Linked DNA regions of Homo sapiens. The protein of the gene in region 2 interacts with the protein of the main gene of each other region in a biochemical or structural test. Each region holds a gene or a part of one and is shown on either strand. Other genes may lie near its edges.

Evidence for each region. The genes of interacting proteins can lie anywhere in the genome.
Region 1: the proteins of VCAM1 (region 2) and MSN form a complex in vitro, tested with the Homo sapiens proteins (one study listed by BioGRID).
Region 3: the proteins of VCAM1 (region 2) and EZR form a complex in vitro, tested with the Homo sapiens proteins (one study listed by BioGRID).

What each region holds. Positions count from the first base shown.
Region 1 is NC_000023.11:65,670,654-65,677,736, reverse strand, and holds part of MSN (moesin), read right to left. Parts: intron 1-7,083. UniProt on the Homo sapiens protein: Ezrin-radixin-moesin (ERM) family protein that connects the actin cytoskeleton to the plasma membrane and thereby regulates the structure and function of specific domains of the cell cortex.
Region 2 is NC_000001.11:100,736,742-100,739,628, reverse strand, and holds the end of VCAM1 (vascular cell adhesion protein 1 isoform a precursor), read right to left. Parts: intron 1,507-2,887; coding exon 1,346-1,506; 3' UTR 584-1,345; downstream 1-583. UniProt on the Homo sapiens protein: Cell adhesion glycoprotein predominantly expressed on the surface of endothelial cells that plays an important role in immune surveillance and inflammation.
Region 3 is NC_000006.12:158,816,286-158,823,491, forward strand, and holds the start of EZR (ezrin), read right to left. Parts: upstream 3,084-7,206; 5' UTR 3,032-3,083; intron 1,951-3,031; exon of another isoform or gene 1,882-1,950; 5' UTR 1,809-1,881; coding exon 1,797-1,808; exon of another isoform or gene 1,694-1,796; intron 1-1,693. UniProt on the Homo sapiens protein: Probably involved in connections of major cytoskeletal structures to the plasma membrane. In epithelial cells, required for the formation of microvilli and membrane ruffles on the apical pole. Along with PLEKHG6, required for normal macropinocytosis.

The sequences.
Region 1 (7,083 bases), on a different chromosome or scaffold from region 2:
ACCCAGGCTGGAGTGCAATGGCGTGATCTCAGCTCACTGTAACCTCCACCTCCCAGGTTCAAGTGATTCTCCTGCCTCAGCCTCCCAAGTAGCTGGGATTACAGGCTCCCGCCAACACGCCCGGCTATTTTTTCTATTTTTAGTAGAGACAAGGTTTCACCATATTGGCCAGGCTGGTCTCAAATTCCTGACCTCAAATGATCCACCTGCCTCAGCCTCTCAAAGTGCTGGGATTACAGGCATGAGCCACCACACGCAAACTCCATGTGCCTCTTTCTAATATTGCTGATATTTTCATGTTGGAGAAAAAGAAAATTAAAAGGCAAAGAAGTTATGTGACTTTTCTTCTTTGTAAAGGAATTAGTCAGTCTCCCACAAGTATCTACAAGGATGTTTGGAGAGGAGTTTAGCTCACTTAAAACCCTTGAAAATAGCAAAGATTTGTACGACTTAACTAATGATGCCCAGATTGACTGTTACCTTGACCCTCACCCTCCAACTCTATACCATAGATTAGTCAACCTCAGTTAAAAATTACAACAGATAAAAGAGGCTCTTGGTGAGCTTCATCAAACATCCAGGCTGAGAATCTGAAAAAATAAATGGATCAGCCAGGCGCAGTGCCTCACGCTTGTAATCCCAGCACTTTGGGAGGCTGAAGCAGGCAGATCACCCGAGGTCAGGAGTTCAAGACCAGCCTGGCCAACATGGTGAAACCTCATCTCTACTAAAAAAAATATAAAAATTAGCCGGGCGTGGCGGCGCACACCTGTAGTCCCAGCTACTTGGGTGGCTGAGGCAGGAGAATCTCTTGAACCCAGGAGATGGAGGTTGCAGTGAGCCAAAGTCATGCCACTGCACTCCAGCCTGGGCAACAGAGCAAGACTCCGTCTCAAAAAAAAAAGAAAAGAAAAAAAAGGAAATGGATCATGGGTTGGAGGGAAGGCAGATTAGATCACGAAAGTAAGATCAGGAACCTTATCTAAACACACAACTTGAGAAAAATAAGACTTGATCCTTCTCAGGTATTTAATGGAGGCCAAGGCTAAAGAGAGGGAAAGAAATACTGATCAAGCCTGACAGGTATGCCTTGTTCCCCCTCCTAGGCCTTGGCCCCAGTCACTTCCCAAATATATACCCAGGAAAAAAATTTTCAGGATTATATCTTGTTTTGTACAACCAAATTGTCATATCTCAACTCTTCTCTCATTAGGCCCTGATCACTACCCTGGATGCACAAAGTATCTATCAAATTCCCACAAGGTAGAAGGGTTGCCAGGAATGGGAAGAAACTTCAATATTCGAAGTCACCAATCACAGAAGATAACTGGCAAAACAGTTCTACTAAGCAAGCACAGAGCCATTTGCCATATTAGTGGCCTAAGAGCTATGTCAACACTTACCTTATGCCACAACAAGCCGATTGAAAGGAGCATCAGATCTGGTATCTGTGTCATTAGGCACAGACAAAGGGCTGTGCTTTGAAAGTCGCCCAAAAGGCCTTTTCTCCAAATTCAAGACCCAGATGCTGCAGCTGTGCCCTGGCCAGAAAACGTCATACTCCTCCACCTCTAACAACCACACACTGAGAAATCCTCCCTGCCATCTCCACCCTTTCCCAAATACCTGATTTTATAGCAAAGTCAATGAGAGAATTAAAAGCTGTTTCTAGGCTGCTGACATAAAGTTATTGCCAAGCTCTATTCTTTGGTTTAGTTCATGTGTAAGCATGAAGAAAAGACCCTCTCACATACCTACTTAGGCAACAAAAGCAACATTTTTAAAAATTAATTTGCCCAGGCTGGGCGTGGTGGCTCACACCTGTAATCCCACCACTTTGGGAGGCTGAGGCGGGTGGATCACCTGAGGTCAGAAGTTCAAGACCAGCCTGGCCAACATGGTGAAACCCCATCTCTACTAAAAATACAAAAATTGGCTGGGCGTGGTGGCGCATGCCTGTAATCCCAGCTATTTGGGAGGCTGAGGAACGAGAATCGCTTGAACCCAGGAGGCGGAGGTTGCAGTGAGCCAAGATTGCACCATTGCACTCCAGCCTGGGCAACAGAGCTAGACTCCATCTCAAAAAAAAAAAAATTAATTTGCCCAATTCTGGAAAACCAAAGGTATGGTCTCCCCCACAGGCCCTTGTTTGCCAATTAAGAAAGGATTGTTGGATCCAAATTACCCTAGAAAGAGTAGCTTCATCTATGCTTATATCTGTGGCTCCCCTTGAATCAGTCAGCAGCTCAAGCCTCCCTTCACTTCAGATAAAGTAACTTTCAAGAGAGCATTGGTCTAGGGCCATTGGTTTACACCCACATACCAAAAACACATCACTTTCCCACCCAGAACGGCCACTGCTCCCAAGTGTACACACCCTTTAAGGCCCTGTTCATGTCCCAGTAAACCCTTTCTCCTCAAAAAGTTGTAGAAAATGCAATGCAAAGTATATATTTTTCTCAAGCCGTTTTTAAGTGAATTAGCCCTAAATCCCCAATTAAATAGGAGATAGGAGATCTTTGAAGGCAGCAGTTGTATCATCCCTTCATTTATTTCTATCCCTTATGGTAAATAGTACATAGTAACCACTCATTAAATGGTAAGAATTCAACTACCTGTCTTCTTTCTTATCCATCCCATCTAGCACAAAGTTAGGCATATAGTAAAATTCAGTAAATAATCATAACATTTGTATATCACTTGTTAGATTCTAGGCACAGTTCTAAGCCCTTTACATAAATTACCTCATGTAATCCTCACAGCAACTCTGTAAGTACTATTATTATTTATGGTTAAGGAAAATGAGGTGCAGAAGTTAAATAACTTGTCCAAGGCTATATAACTAGTTGGTCGCAGAGCTAGATTTGAGTCCAGGCAGTCTAGTTCCAGAGTCTGTTTTTCAACACTACTCTATGCTTCCTTTCCACGGAGGCTTGAAAGGTCTTTTTTTAGCTTCCTGCCCCAGGCTTGGCCTATAAGCACCTAGAGGTGAGTGGTGAACTTTGAGGCCAGGAGATTCTAGTCTGCATTCAAACAATTTGCTACAGCAGCAAATACTGTCACTAAATTGAAAAAGTGCCATACTGTTCTCCTAACTCAAGGGACAGATCAAGCTGGAGCGCTGAGTCAGAATTCAGAATTCAAAAAGGTCAGAGCTCAAAATTAAACAGGGCAAAGAGAAAGCAGGGAACTGGGGTGAGGGGTAGACAGGAAGAGAAGACAGTCATCGGAGATCCCAGAAAAACTTGCTATAGCAAAACCATTTTAGGGGAACTCCATTGTACCCATCTTGTTAATGTAATCACCACAGAGCCAGTTCTCTGGAAGTCTGTGCTCTCTGGGTGGAGTCATCCTTCTAAGACAGCCAAGTCCAGTGGGAGACCACTAACTTGGGAATTAGGAAATCCAAGTTCTCCTTTCAATACTGTTACCAACTATATGTGACCTCGAACAAGCTGCCTAACCCCTCTGGCTATGAATACGATGAAGAAATTACTCTCTAAAGTTTCTTAGGACAGCAAGGCCTAGTCTCAAGCAGGAAAATGTGACTAGTGTCCTCTCTCTACCTCCCTTCAGCCTACACATATGCCTTCCACCACCCGTCACAAGCCAAAGCAAAACACTTACCTTCCTGGGAAGTGCTACAAAGAGTTCCTGAGACAAGGTCAGAGCCTGAGCCATTTCCAAATAAAGAAACCCATGAGATCAGCTCTACACACTCAGAGGAACTTGCTCTTCCCATGGCCATAACTCCACGGTCATGTCACCACCAGCACAGAGGGAGAAGACACTGAGCACCTCACAGTGAGTGCCATTTAGAAGGTAGGCATTCACCATCCCTCCCCTACACTGGAGCCAAGCAAGTTAGGTTTTAGTCCTGGCACTATCACCAGTTCACTCAAATCCTTTCCCTTTTCTGGACTTTAGTGCCCCCATCAAGAAGATAAAGGCTGAGGCAGAAGATTTAAGGCCAGCTCAGTTGTTCCATGGTTCAAAACACTCCTGTGAGAAACCCTGCCCATCCAGAACAACCAGCTAAAGGAAAGCTTAAGGCTAGGGAAGCTCTGGGTTGCCCTAGATGCAAATGCCTTTAAAATGCTGTACCCCATACAAAATTAGCTGGGCATGGTGGCGCATGCCTGTAATCCCAGCTACTCGGGAGCCTGAGGCAGGAGAATCGCTTGAACCCGGGAGGTGGAGGTTGCAGTGAGCTGAGATCGTGCCATTGCACTCCAGCCTGAACAACAGCAAAACTCCGTATCAAAAAAAAAAAAAAAGCTGTACCCCACAATAGCCAGTCCTCAGCTCACTGGTGGTAGATACTTTATGAGGTTTGTTTAGGAGCCCTTAGGAAGGCCTCAATATCTACCAATATATCTAACTACCACACTCACCATGTTAGAAGAAAATCTGAAACATAATCTAGTAGCTTCCGGGCCTTCCTTTCAGCAGAAATAAAAAGGACTATTCTACTATCAGGCAGGCGGTCACTGAAAAATGTGGGAAGAATGGCAGGAAAATCTATGAGGCTTTTAGTGTTTGTCCAAAGCTTTTCAGTCAACCCACAGTCTTCATAATATACTCTCACTTGGTTTATTTCTTTCCACAGTAAGGAAAGACACAGCCCTTTCTCTCCCATGACTCGGGAAGAAATGGCCAAGAGTACTCAAGCCAGTATTCTTCTTGGATCTACTAATGAAACAAACCAACTCCCATGTGAGAAACAGTCCATTCTGAACTCAGCACTTAAGAAGAAACAGCACTCAAGGAGTATAATGGGACAAGAGGATACATTTTAATAAGCGCTGTTCAATTTTGTATTTCCAATACTGCCTGGCACATAGAAGGTACCCAAATGTTGAAGAAAGAATGTCTGAAGGAATGAACATACATATAAGAGACTCAATGCTCTTATACCATCAAGATTCTCAAAAACATCAGTACTGGAGGGATTCCTAGAGTTTACCCATCACTGGTACAGCTCCCTCATGACAAGCTGGAGAGACAGAGGGCCTGAAGAAAGGACTTGCCTAAAGTCCCACTTCATTTGGCTCACTTTACTGAGGACAGGAGAGAAGTTCTTCTTATATGGAAAGAGAAGAAAAATTCTCAGTTCAGTGATGCTTTCCATTTCCCAGCACCCACCTTCCAAATTCATGGAATCCTGAGCTAATCCTCCAAAGTGACAACTTCTATACCACAGATTAGAACCTGGAATTGAAAAGTTTTTCAGCTCTCTCAAGCATGAAATGGAAGGAGGGATGGACAGCAAAGCCAGTCAGTCATGAAAAGACCACCCCCTTCACTTGAACCAACAGACTATCCCAAAGGAGACCACATCTGTACCCTGTTTTTTCCTTTTTGCAAGCAAAGTAATAGAGCAGGTGGCAGGGAAAGAAGATTCTGAGTTAGGAAAGAGGCACATGATAAATTCAATTCTATCTTTGAAAGATTAGAGACAGACTATTAGCAATCTGTAACAATGCCAAATTTCCAGCAGCTATGGTTATGAAAGGCCTAACTCTGGTAGTGTTGGTAGCCAGATATTCTCCCCTCTGGGGACCCTGAGTCTAGAAATTCCAGTGGGGGAAACTCCCAGAAAGATACAAAGGGACCTAAGACAGGCTGTTGCCATGCAACACTAGAACAGAGTTCAGAATAATTGTAGCTGTCATATTATCTCATCCAGAGAGAATTAGATTTGGAGGCAGGGGAAATAGACTAGATGACTTCCAAATGTCCTTTCCAGCTCCATCATTCGGTAAAGTAGTTTCATGGGAGGAGGAGGTAAGAGAAAAGTAAGAACAACACCCTAAAACAAGCTACTGTTGCAGGCAGCTAGAGAATGGAAAGTTAGAAGATTAGTGATCAATACTACTTCTATCACTGACTCACAGAGCAACCTTTCCCTCTCCAAGCCTAACACGAGAGAGCATAGATTAGTTGGTGTGGGTCCCACAAAGGCCTTCCTGCCCCACCAGCCCCCTCCCTACCCAGAGGGCTGTTAAAAGAAAAGCGTAAAGGAAATTCCCAAGATGGTTCCTGCTCTGTCTCTATCATCTACACTTTCACAAAGGGCCAAGTGAACTGAAGAACCCAAGTGGAGAGATGCAGGATCCTCTCTCATATGACCTCTCTTCCTGATCCTTTTCCCCCCACTTAAGTCTGTAGGCAGGGCTGGTTCAAGGGTTAAAAGACTAAGAATCTGGCTCCTATTTACCAAGTACCACTTTAGTGCCACTCGAGTGGCTCAAGTAATGCTAGGAATGGCAGGAGAATAAACAGTCCACATAGTCCCTGTTAAAGTTTAGCTGAATGCCGACCCAAACACCTTCAAATACTTCAAGGATCTAGGCTCTATGTCTGCTCACATTGATGGTCCCATCAAATGACCACTCGATTGCCTTTCCCCTGATCTGTTGATCTATGGCTAAAACCCCAGCAGATCAAAGAGGTGTTTCACCAAGACTGACCCTCTAACTAAGACCTAGATTCAAGTCCTAGTTTTGCAACTGGCATACTGCATCACTCTAGGTTAGTCTCCCCCTAACATGAGTTTCAGTTTCATCATCTATACAATGAGAGGAATTGGACTTTATAGTTGTGGAGAGCCTTTTCAATACTAACATCTAATAAATCCCAAGGAAGGAAACCAGAAACTCAAGAACATCTCGAAAATTCAAAACACTCTTTTTTTAGGAAATCCAAGAAAGCCTCAAAGCCTTTGTGATCCTAAAAGAAAAAAATTAAAGAAGGTAGGGAGGGGGAAAGGCCTTTTTAAATATATATATATATATATATATATATATATATATATATATATATATATATATATATATAACTGTCATCATCACCAAAAAATGTAGATGGCAATTAATAAGCTTTTCCATTCTGGCTACTAAAGCAGACTCAGGAAACTGGCAACCAGAAGCAGAGTCCAAGGAATGGCAAGAAGGCAAGGGTGGCGGTGGGTAGTGAGGCATGTTTTTTTGTTTTTTTGCTTTTTTTGTTTTTGAGATGGAGTCTCACTCTGTCACCCAGGCTGGAGTGCAGTGGCGTGATCTCGGCTCACTGCAACCTCCG
Region 2 (2,887 bases):
CGTGAACCCAGGAGGCGGAGCTTGCAGCCAGCCGAGATGCGAGGTGGCGCCACTGCACTCCAGCCTGGGCGACAGAGCGAGACTCCGTCTCAAAAAAAAAAAAAAAAAAAAAAACTCCAAAGGAAGCATGGAAATGATCAATGTATGATTCACAATATTTATGGGTTACTGCTCAGTGAGGGAAGAGTGCTGCCATCACTATGTGGTATATAAAAGGCTCTGAAGAATAGTTTTACTATCTCTTGCTCTTAATGTTCTGTACACAGGTGTTCATTTGTTGCCCATTAACATGTGCATGTTCATCTGCATTAAATCTTTTTATGTATATTTTTCTAAATTAAAAAATTGCAGATTCCAAGGACCAAAAACTAGACACTTCTATTCAATATCTTAGTCTGGCACCAAGAAATCTACATTTTTATCAAGTTCCTACAGTAATTTTAATAATAGTAGTCTAAGGGTCACATTTTGAGTATCCGTATTATTTCCATAGTTTGAATATTTTACTCTTATAACTTAGCACTTCAGAAAGAGCTACAATGTGACTAAAGGAGGCAGTTTATAATAAATAAACATACAACCATTCTAATTCCAGAAATTATCACTTTACTATACAAAAAAACCTAAACATTTACAAAAGAAAATAAAAAGAAGTTGCATTTTTAGGCCACATTGGGAAAGTTGCACAGGAGTCTGATGAACAAACTTCGTGAAACATCTCCGTACCATGCCAGTACTATACAGAGAAACCCAGTCAACCATTATACCATAGGTTGAGGTATTTAGTACCTGAAAGTCAACCCAGTGCTCCCTTTGCTTATTATTTGTCTATAAAAATATAAAACCCGGCATCTTTACAAAACCTGAAATTATTGTCAATAAACTATATAGGAATAAAATTTTGTGAAAGGGAATAAAATAGAAGAAAGATGACAAAGGTCAGCTGTCAGCAAATATTAATGTGAAATTTTCCTAACATGCATTAAATTATAATAGTCCAAGCAACACTAGTTATTTTAACAATCTAAATATAGAGTGTTGCTATTTTAAGCAATCTTGCTATGGCATAATTTTATTTTACATATGTACAAATTATGTTATTGTATATACAGATCAAGGAACTCCTCCAGTTCTCTCATCTTGATGGCAGTTACTGTTCTTCAGGCAGCAAGTTTTACTTTGACTTCTTGCTCACAGCAAGGGACATAGATGGGCATTTCTTTCCAAGTTCAATACATTCAGGGAAGTCTGCCTCTCAGCTCATTGTTTTTCTCAAGGAATGATGAGCAGTATCAAGGATTTGCACAGATAAATAGTGTCTCCAGTTGAACATATCAAGCATTAGCTACACTTTTGACTTCTGTGCTTCTACAAGACTATATGACCCCTTCATGTTGGCTTTTCTTGCAAAGTAAATTATCATTCCAATGGCAGGTATTATTAAGGAGGATGCAAAATAGAGCACGAGAAGCTCAGGAGAAAAATAGTCTTTGTTGTTTTCTCTTCCTGGAAAATAACAAAATGGATGCAATTAATGTCTAGTACAAAAAGATAGCATTTAATAACAACAGTTACATGTTTATTATAACAGTACAACTAGTTCTCCAAAGAGAAGGGAATCAAAGCAGTGATAAGGACCATCAGGACCCAAGATGCATGTTTGTCTGAATTATCCAAATAATCAGTTGGTGGTTGCTATGGTCATGATGGATCTAAAGATGATAGTTGTTGGCTTCCACAAACTTGGATTCAAATAGATTCAGGTTCAGTTGTAAAATGGAAGGGAGGGTACAAGTTTTTAACAAGAACAGGAATTGGAGAGAGGCAAGAACAGGAATTGGAGAGAGGCACTTGCTTGGGGAAATAAAAATATCTACTAAAGAACTGGGACTCTGATGACCATGAATTGAAATGACTAACCAGTTCTCTAAGAAAATCCTTATAATATTCAGAGTGTGACCATTATAGCTAAATGCCACAAATAAGATCGTAAGAGAAAAAAAAAATCTTGCCAATGGCTTTCTCAGAGATATACAGAAGTTTCTATGTTTTTTATGTCAGAAATAGGGCATATTAATACATTTTTCCTCTTCAGCATTTATATCATCTTTTGATAAACTAGAGTTCTTTGGACAGTGTTATGTTACAGCTTAAATGTTTCTTAGAGGCATTCTCTAATCTATATCTCCCTCATTCTAAATTAAGAACCTCAATATATTTTCAAAACCCACTCGTTTTCCCTTCAAAACCCTTATTACAGCTTTTAATTAAACATTTATCCATGTAATTACTTATTAAGTTTAGTTTCCTCCCCTAAGCTAAAAATTACATCAAGACATGTATATCTATTTTCTTTTTAGTCCATCACTGAACAGCCAGCACCTGACTCACTGCTTGGCCTAGTTGGCACCAAAAACAATATTTTTTAAACACTAATAACATTTTTTTCTCTCTACATTTTGCTTTTGCCACTTAGTTGTAAATGGAGTACAGTAGGTAACAGCATACAAAAACTTTAAAATTAGTATTCTTTCTAATCTGCTAAAAAATCATCTGACAGCTGCTATACTGCTTAACATCTTAACTTTATAAGAGCAGCTGAAGAAGATAGTGTGTCATTTACTGAAGACTCACTCCTGTTTATACTTTGCACAGCATCATGTGACCACACAAGTATTAAGTTTCACTAAGTGGCATATACATTGTCTCAGTCCTGGCAGAAACTAGAGATCTGACTTTGGTGATTACTACATTCTTTCCAGAGCTTTCTAATCACTGGAGGTCAACCAAGTAAAAAGAATCACGAGCATCAGATAATGTGAAGTCACTTTTTCAAATTATTGAAGAAAAACAGTTCACCCTAAGCATAATGATAATTGTCTCACTT
Region 3 (7,206 bases), on a different chromosome or scaffold from region 2:
GAAATGTAAACCTAAAAGTAAGAGGATAAACTGTATATTTTACCAAAATACAAAAAAGAAACCATAAAAATAAATTACCATTCATTATGAGAAATGAGAAAGAAAAGTAGTGACGGAGAACAGGTTAACTTTTTCCTGAGTGCTATCTTAGCTGAGCTCTGCACCTCTTCTTTTAGTGAAATAAAGAAAACCACACCCAGAAGGGTAATCTTCTTGACCACTCCTCCGCATACCGTTGCACTCAGCTCTGCCTGAGTAAGGGGTTGTACTTAGGTCAGTTTCATACCACATGCACTGTCAAGCCTCGATGTCACGTGTCACTTTTAAGTTTGAATTAAAAAGAAAAATTTTGTATAGAAAATACTCTGCATCACAAATGAATCATCTTGATGTAACTTAGGCAAAAATTATATTGGCTTCTGAATCTACTGGCATATTAATTCTTTATCCTAACAGCAAAATTAATACCTCTAACAAAGATCTTAGAGAACATAAAATGTAACAGAAGAAGCACACAAGGCCGGGTGTGGTGGCTCACGCCTGTAATCCTAGCATTTTGGGAGGTCGAGGTAGGCAGATCACCTGAGGTCAGGAGTTTTAGACCAGCCTGGCCAACATGGTGAAACCCCCTCTCTATAAAAATACAAAAACCAGCTGGGCATGGTGGCACATGCCTGTAATCCCAACTACTCGGGAGGCTGAGGCAGGAGATTCGCTTGAACCTGAGAGGCAGAGGTTGCAGTGAGCCGAGATCATGCCACTGCACTCCAGCCTGGGCCACAGAGAGAGACTCCGCTCCCCCATCCCCCACAAAAGGCACACAAGCATTGATTACAGAACCAACTTGTTTGAAAAACCAAAAAAAAATTCCAGATGTATCTGTAATCCCAATTTGTAATGAATCCTGATATTTTGTCCATTGTGATTCAAAACTCAAAAAATGTTAAACCTTCCCCCTAATGTCTAGTCACCAGTTCCCCAGTGTTAAAAGCAGGTAGAATACATACAACTTTCTAAGAAGCGTCAGTCCCAGAGAACCTGCCTTGTGCCTACAACCCCCAGGTCTCGCCAGCAATCTCAACACAATCAGATTCAAGGAGACAGAGGCGCAGGCACAGCCCTTTCATCAGCTGACCAGGAGTGCTCGGCCCGGCCTGCCAGGAACCTCTTATCAAACTCCACCGGCTGCCTGCATCTACAATTCAAGTCCATGGCTAACCTTCTGTTAGAGACAGAAATTCTGCTGCAGCCAGCAAGTTTGCTGGTGTACAGGGCACCGCTTCATGGGCCTAGTAGGAAGCGAAGCTGAAAGGCAACTTCCGAAAGCCAGTCTCCTCTCCCAAACGCCCTTTAATATCTCCCCAGTTGGATCTGGGGCGCCTGTGGTTTCGGACCCTTAGGAGCTCTGAGAACTGGTGTGTGTGGTCGGAAGCCATCTGAGTCTCCCTGTGATTTGGACTTTTTAAGAAACTTCTAAGTTGTATTACTATACCCTTTAAAAACAGACGGAAGCAGTGTAAAAAGGCCTCTAGTTTTTAGAAAAGACCGTAACTACTGGGGAGGGGGCTCACAAAGAAAAAGACTGCAGAGAAAAGCATCAAAATGGTGTTTTCCTAACGCTCCACAAAAGGGTCAACAAGTAACAAAGAGCGGCGAAAACCTCCTCCTATTCCTATCGTCTTCTGCGTGTGAGAAGAACCCTGTTCCCCAGGAACTGCCCCAACACCTCGAGCAGGTGCCTCCCCTCTCCAATGAAGCCTCTCCCGTCCGCCCGGCCCAGAAACTGGGCAACTTACTGGTTTCGGCATTTTCGGTTTCTGGTGAGTATCCTCGATCCCCGAAAACACGACTATCCAGCAGCAGCGAAGACGCTGTCCCAACCTGGAGTCAGAGCAGAACCCTTAGAGCGCCCGCCCGCCCTGCCTCGTCCTCCTGCCGCGCCCGACACTCGGCGCCCGCAGCGCGCTGCCGCTTAAGAACCGGCCAGCCCGGGCCCGGGTGAGTCAGCGCCCCGCCCAGCACTGCGGGCATGGGGAGGGGGCACGGGCGGGGCGGGGCCGGGCCGGGCCCCCGGCGAGGAGGCGCCCGAGAGCGGGGGCGCGCGCCCAAGGGGCAGCCGGCGGGCACTGGAGGTGCCCCCCAGTTGGGGGTGGGTCCGAGGAGAGGGGGTGCGCACCCAGGGGACCCCCAGCATGAAGGGGCTGGTGGGGGGCGCAGGCCCGGGAGAGAGAGGGCAGGGGGAACACTCAGTGGGGAGGATCGGGGGGAGGGGGCGCGGGCCCCGGGGAACACTCGGCCAGGAGGGTCAGGGGAGAGAGCGCCGGCCGGGCGGGGAGGGGTCTGGGGGACACTCGAGGTGCACCCAGCGGAGAGAGGCGGAGAAGAGGGGGCGCGGGCCCAGGGATACCCGGCGGGGAAAGGCCCGGGGAGAGGGAGCGCGCGCCTGGGAGAGAGAGGGCGAGGGGCAGGAGGAACACCTAGGAGGAAGGAGTCCCGGGACAGCCAGCGCGAGCCCGCGGGGCACCCGACAGGGAGGGGTCAGGGGAGAGGGGGCACAGGGCGGGCGGGGGGGCACTCGCTGGGGAGGGATCCGTGGAGAGGGGGCGCGGGCTCGGGGTCCGCCGAGGAACTTCCCGGGGCTGCCAGGAAGCCCGTGAGAAGCCGAGCACTCGGCAAGTTTCACTTTGTGTAGCAACCGTTGCCCCGCGGCTGCAGTCACAACCGTCAAGCCTTTGAGAAACTCTTTCAAAAACTGCAACCGCTCGGGAGCCGCCGAGGGACGGCGCCCAGGCACCCAGGCTCCGCGTTTCCTTCGGGAGAGACCTGAGGGGACCCGGCGCCGAGGGGAAGGTCGCGGGGCCGCGGGCCGGCTCAGCTCCACCTGCCCCGGGGGTGCCGGGCGAGAACCCCGCGCCGCGCCCCCTAGGCTGCCCGCCGCACCTGCCGCCGAACCCCGCCGCCCGCCCGGGCCCTCCACCAGGAACCCCCCGCCCAGAACCCCCGTCCCGACCCCGGCCGCCGCACGCCTCACCCGGCGCCTGCAGTGCTCCGTGTGCTCCCCGCCGCCCTTGCGTCCGCCGAGTGCGCTCGCTGCCCGCGCTCCCAAAAGCCCCGGCGGGGCGGGTCCCGGGACCACGCCCCTTCCCGCCCAGCTCCCGACCTGTGAGGTGCGCCCCCCGCAAGATGGCGGCAGCCGGGCCTCGGGCTGGGTGGGGGCGGAACTTGGCGGAAGTGCGCGCTACTCCCCTCGCAGATGCAAGTGGGGAGGCTGTTTGTCCCACAGCGGGCAGGGGGAAGTCAGGAAAACGTAAATAAATCTGGAGGGGCGGACGGCTTGGGGGAATCGCTGGACCGCTTGGGGCCGGGACCGGGGGCCAGTTCCGAGGCCTCGGCCCTGGGGCGGCTGCACCTGGCCCCGAGTCTCGGTGCACGTGGCCGGCCCAGCCGCCGCCTTTCCGAAGCTCTGGTTAAGTGGCACGTTTGTGGCCTCTTTTGACGTGACTGGCAAAAAGCTCCATGGGATTTCTCTGAAATTCTAGGAATTAAGTTTTTTTGTTTGTTTTTTTGCTAATGGTTCTCAACAAATTTTTAAGACACACAAAACACATACTTTGGGGGCCAGTAGAATTTGCTGCGGGAGAGCTCACTCTAGAAGGGGTTCTCAACGTCTGGCTTCCAGACGAGCAGCAACAGCATTCACTGGGAACTTGCATAAGTGGAAATTAGGTGTTGCTCAGCCTTAGGATTCAGAAACTCTAGGGCTGAGCCCAGCAATCAGTGTGTTACAAGCCCTTCGGGTGATTGTGATGTTGGCTAAAGGTTGAGACCAGAGCTTCTCCTGAATTCCTCTCCTGGGTTTACTCCTCCCTTTCTGCTTTTAGTTTTCTTGTTTGTAAAGCGGCATAATTATGGCACCTGTATCAGAGGGTTCTAATGAGGATAATGAGTTAGTACATGTACGATGCCTGGAACAGTACCTGACACTTAGTAAGCACTTAAATCTATCCTGGTAGAAAGAGAAACCAATGACTTTGGGCGAAGTTCCAAACTCTGTTTCCCAATTTGTTGAGTGAACATACTAGTAGCCCCACCTACATAGACTTGTAAGGATTAAATGAGATCGTGCATGTGGAATGCTTAACTCGTGCTAGCCTCATAGTAATTGATGCTTAACCTGTCTTCCTAGGGACACACTGCTGTTTGGGCAACCCTTTGTCAGGGCCTGTTATCTCCCACTTGCAGATCCAGGGCATTTCAGAGGTCAGAGAGAGGAGGGAGGCCTCTTCTGAGATTTTGACCTCTATTCAGGTAAGTGTATTCCCTCTGAAAGACTGAACTTTTCTTTCCCTTTTTTTTTTAGACGGAGTTTTGCTCTTCTTGCCCAGGCTGGAGTGCATTGGCGCAATCTCAGCTCATTGCAACCTCCATCTCCCAGGTTCAAGCAATTCTCCTGCCTCAGCCTCTTGAGTAGCTGGGATTACAGACACCCGCCACCAAGCCCAGCTAAATTTTTGTATTTTTAGTAGAGACGGGGTTTCACCATGTTGGCCAGGCTGGTTTTGAACTCCTGACCTCAGGTGATCTGCTCACCTCGGCCTCCCAAAGTGCTAGGATTACAGGCGTGAGCCATCACTCCTGGCCTGAATTTCTTTTTTATTAAAATGAAGTTATAGGCCGGGCGCTGTGGCTCATGCCTGTAATCCCAGCACTTTGGGAGGCCGAGGCAGGTGGAACACCTGAGGTCAGGAGTTCAAGACCAGCCTGACCAACATGGAGAAACCCCGTCTCTACTAAAAATACAGAATTAGCTGGGTGTGGTGGCGCACGCCTGTAGTCCCAGCTACTCGGGAAGCTGAGGCAGGAGAATGGTGTGAACCCGGGAGGCAGAGCTTGCAGTGAGCTAAGATCGCACCATTGCACTCCAGCCTGGGCAACAAGAGTGAAACTCCGTCTCAAAAATAAATAAATAAATAAATAAAATGAAGATATAATGGTAACTGCAGTAGAAAGAAAACTATGAAAGATATTTAAATTACCTGCACTGATAATGTTTCCAACTGGACATCAATACCTCCACTGCCTTATCACTGCCTGGAGCCTGGTTAGCCAGTTTGGGTTCCCAACTCTCATAATAGGATATGCCTCTAATCTAATTTTTATCTCGCTCCATTTGAAGTATACTGTCTTCTAAATTGAATGTTTGAAATAGCGGTGCCCCAAGACCTTGAAGAGCATTTCTGAACTTTACCCTTTAGGGGAATGCCAAAAAATGAAGTGGCCTGTGGCAGTGTGGTAAAAATGAAACGGCCAGGTGCGATGATTCAAGCCTGTAATCCCAGCACTTTGGGAGGCTGAGGCGAGCAGATCACCTGAGGTCAGGAGTTCGAGACCAGCCTGGCCAACGTGGGGAAACCCCATCTCTACTAAAAATACAAAAAATTAGATGGGCATGGTGGTGCACGCCTGTAACCCCAGCTACTCGGGAGCCTGAAGCAGGAGAATCACTTGAAACCAACCGTGAGGCAGAGGTTGCAGTGAGCTGAGATCGCACCATTGCATTCTAGCCTGGGCAACAACAGCGAAACTCTGTCTCAAAAAATAAATAAAATAAAATAAAAATGAAACGATGGCAGGTTTTTGAGGCAAACAGAGCTAAGTCTGAATTCTGCTTCCTGCAAACTGACCAACCTGGTCCGTTCGGGCAAGTCTGTCAACCTGACTGAGCATCCATCTCTTCATCTGTAAAATGGAAAGGATAATATGTATTTCATGGTATTCTTGTGTCACTGAATCATATCATATGAGCATTTGACTCACTCAACTTTTATGTACAATTAGCCCTCTGTATTTGTAGGTTCTACATTCATGGAATCAGCCAACCTTGGATGGAAAAGATTTGGAAAATAATAAAAATAATACTACAATTAAAATACCAATAAAAATCCAATACAGAATATAGTATAACAAGTATTTACATTATATTACATATTATAAGTAATCTGGAGATGATTTAAGATATACAGGAGGATTTTGTACATTATATGCAAATACTGTACCCTTTTATGTCAGGAACTTGATCATTGGAGAATTTTGGTATCCTCAGAGGTCTTGGAACCAATCCCCTGTGGATACAGAGGGATGCTATATAATCTTTCTTACATAAGTTAAAATAGTATAAAGTCATATTTGTACATGCATTCCTTATCATGTATCTTACATTACTGTAAGTATGACAACATAGCATTTACATGTTACTGTACTGTTCTGCCCACCAAGGAAACACTTACAGTGTATCTTATGAATGTTTTAAGATTTTCTAAGGGTAATTTATTTTCATCAGGGTTTGGAACCTAAACCCCTGCCCCCAGCACACACACAGAAGACTCAACTCCAGCTGTGTTGAAACTTGAATATGCATTAGAATCACTCATAGTGCCCTTCTCCAGGACTTATGGCTCACTAAGACTAAGTCTCAGGCAGCCCCTGGGAATCTGTTTCTTTAACAAGTCCCCACGTGGTTTTGATGATGTACACCACAATTTGAGAACAACTGACTTAGGATGTGGCAGGACCTTGACGCATATTTCACTTGCCTCTCCTTTTAGCCCTCATTTGTGAAGCTGTTCCTTGTGTTTGAAAGTCATCCTTTTGTTAATATATGATACTCAGTGCCTTGGAAGGAAGTGAGGAAACACTGGAGCCAGGACTACTGGAAACTTCCCTGCTGTTAGTTTAGGTATAAGACCTTGAATGACCCTTCATTGCCGGGTTTCCATTTTCCAGTTTTTCAGCTAGAGAAGGGTAATCCTAAGTCTGCCTCTTGAGCCTGGTGAAGGGCTGTTGGTAATTTCCTGGGAGTTCTTCAGACAAGGTTAAAACTAAAGTGAGGAAGGGCAGCCCTCCCGGAAGCTCAGAACAGTGTCACGGACTAGAACCATTGTACCCAGAACAGTCACATCCACTGATACAGGAGATTTCTATCAAATCACCTTGGAGCCTGTCTCCACACTGGTGCCGGGTTAATCTCAACCAGTAACAAAAAAGTGACCAAAGCTCTATCTAGCTGTAGTCACTTCAAAAGAACAGTCAGTAGGCAGTGGGGAAATACATAAAGAGTACTCTTGGCAAAACAAGGATTGGGGTTATTTTCCACCCTTAATAACCTTGGGGGAAAATGCAAGACGGTGACTAAATCTGGAGGATAGG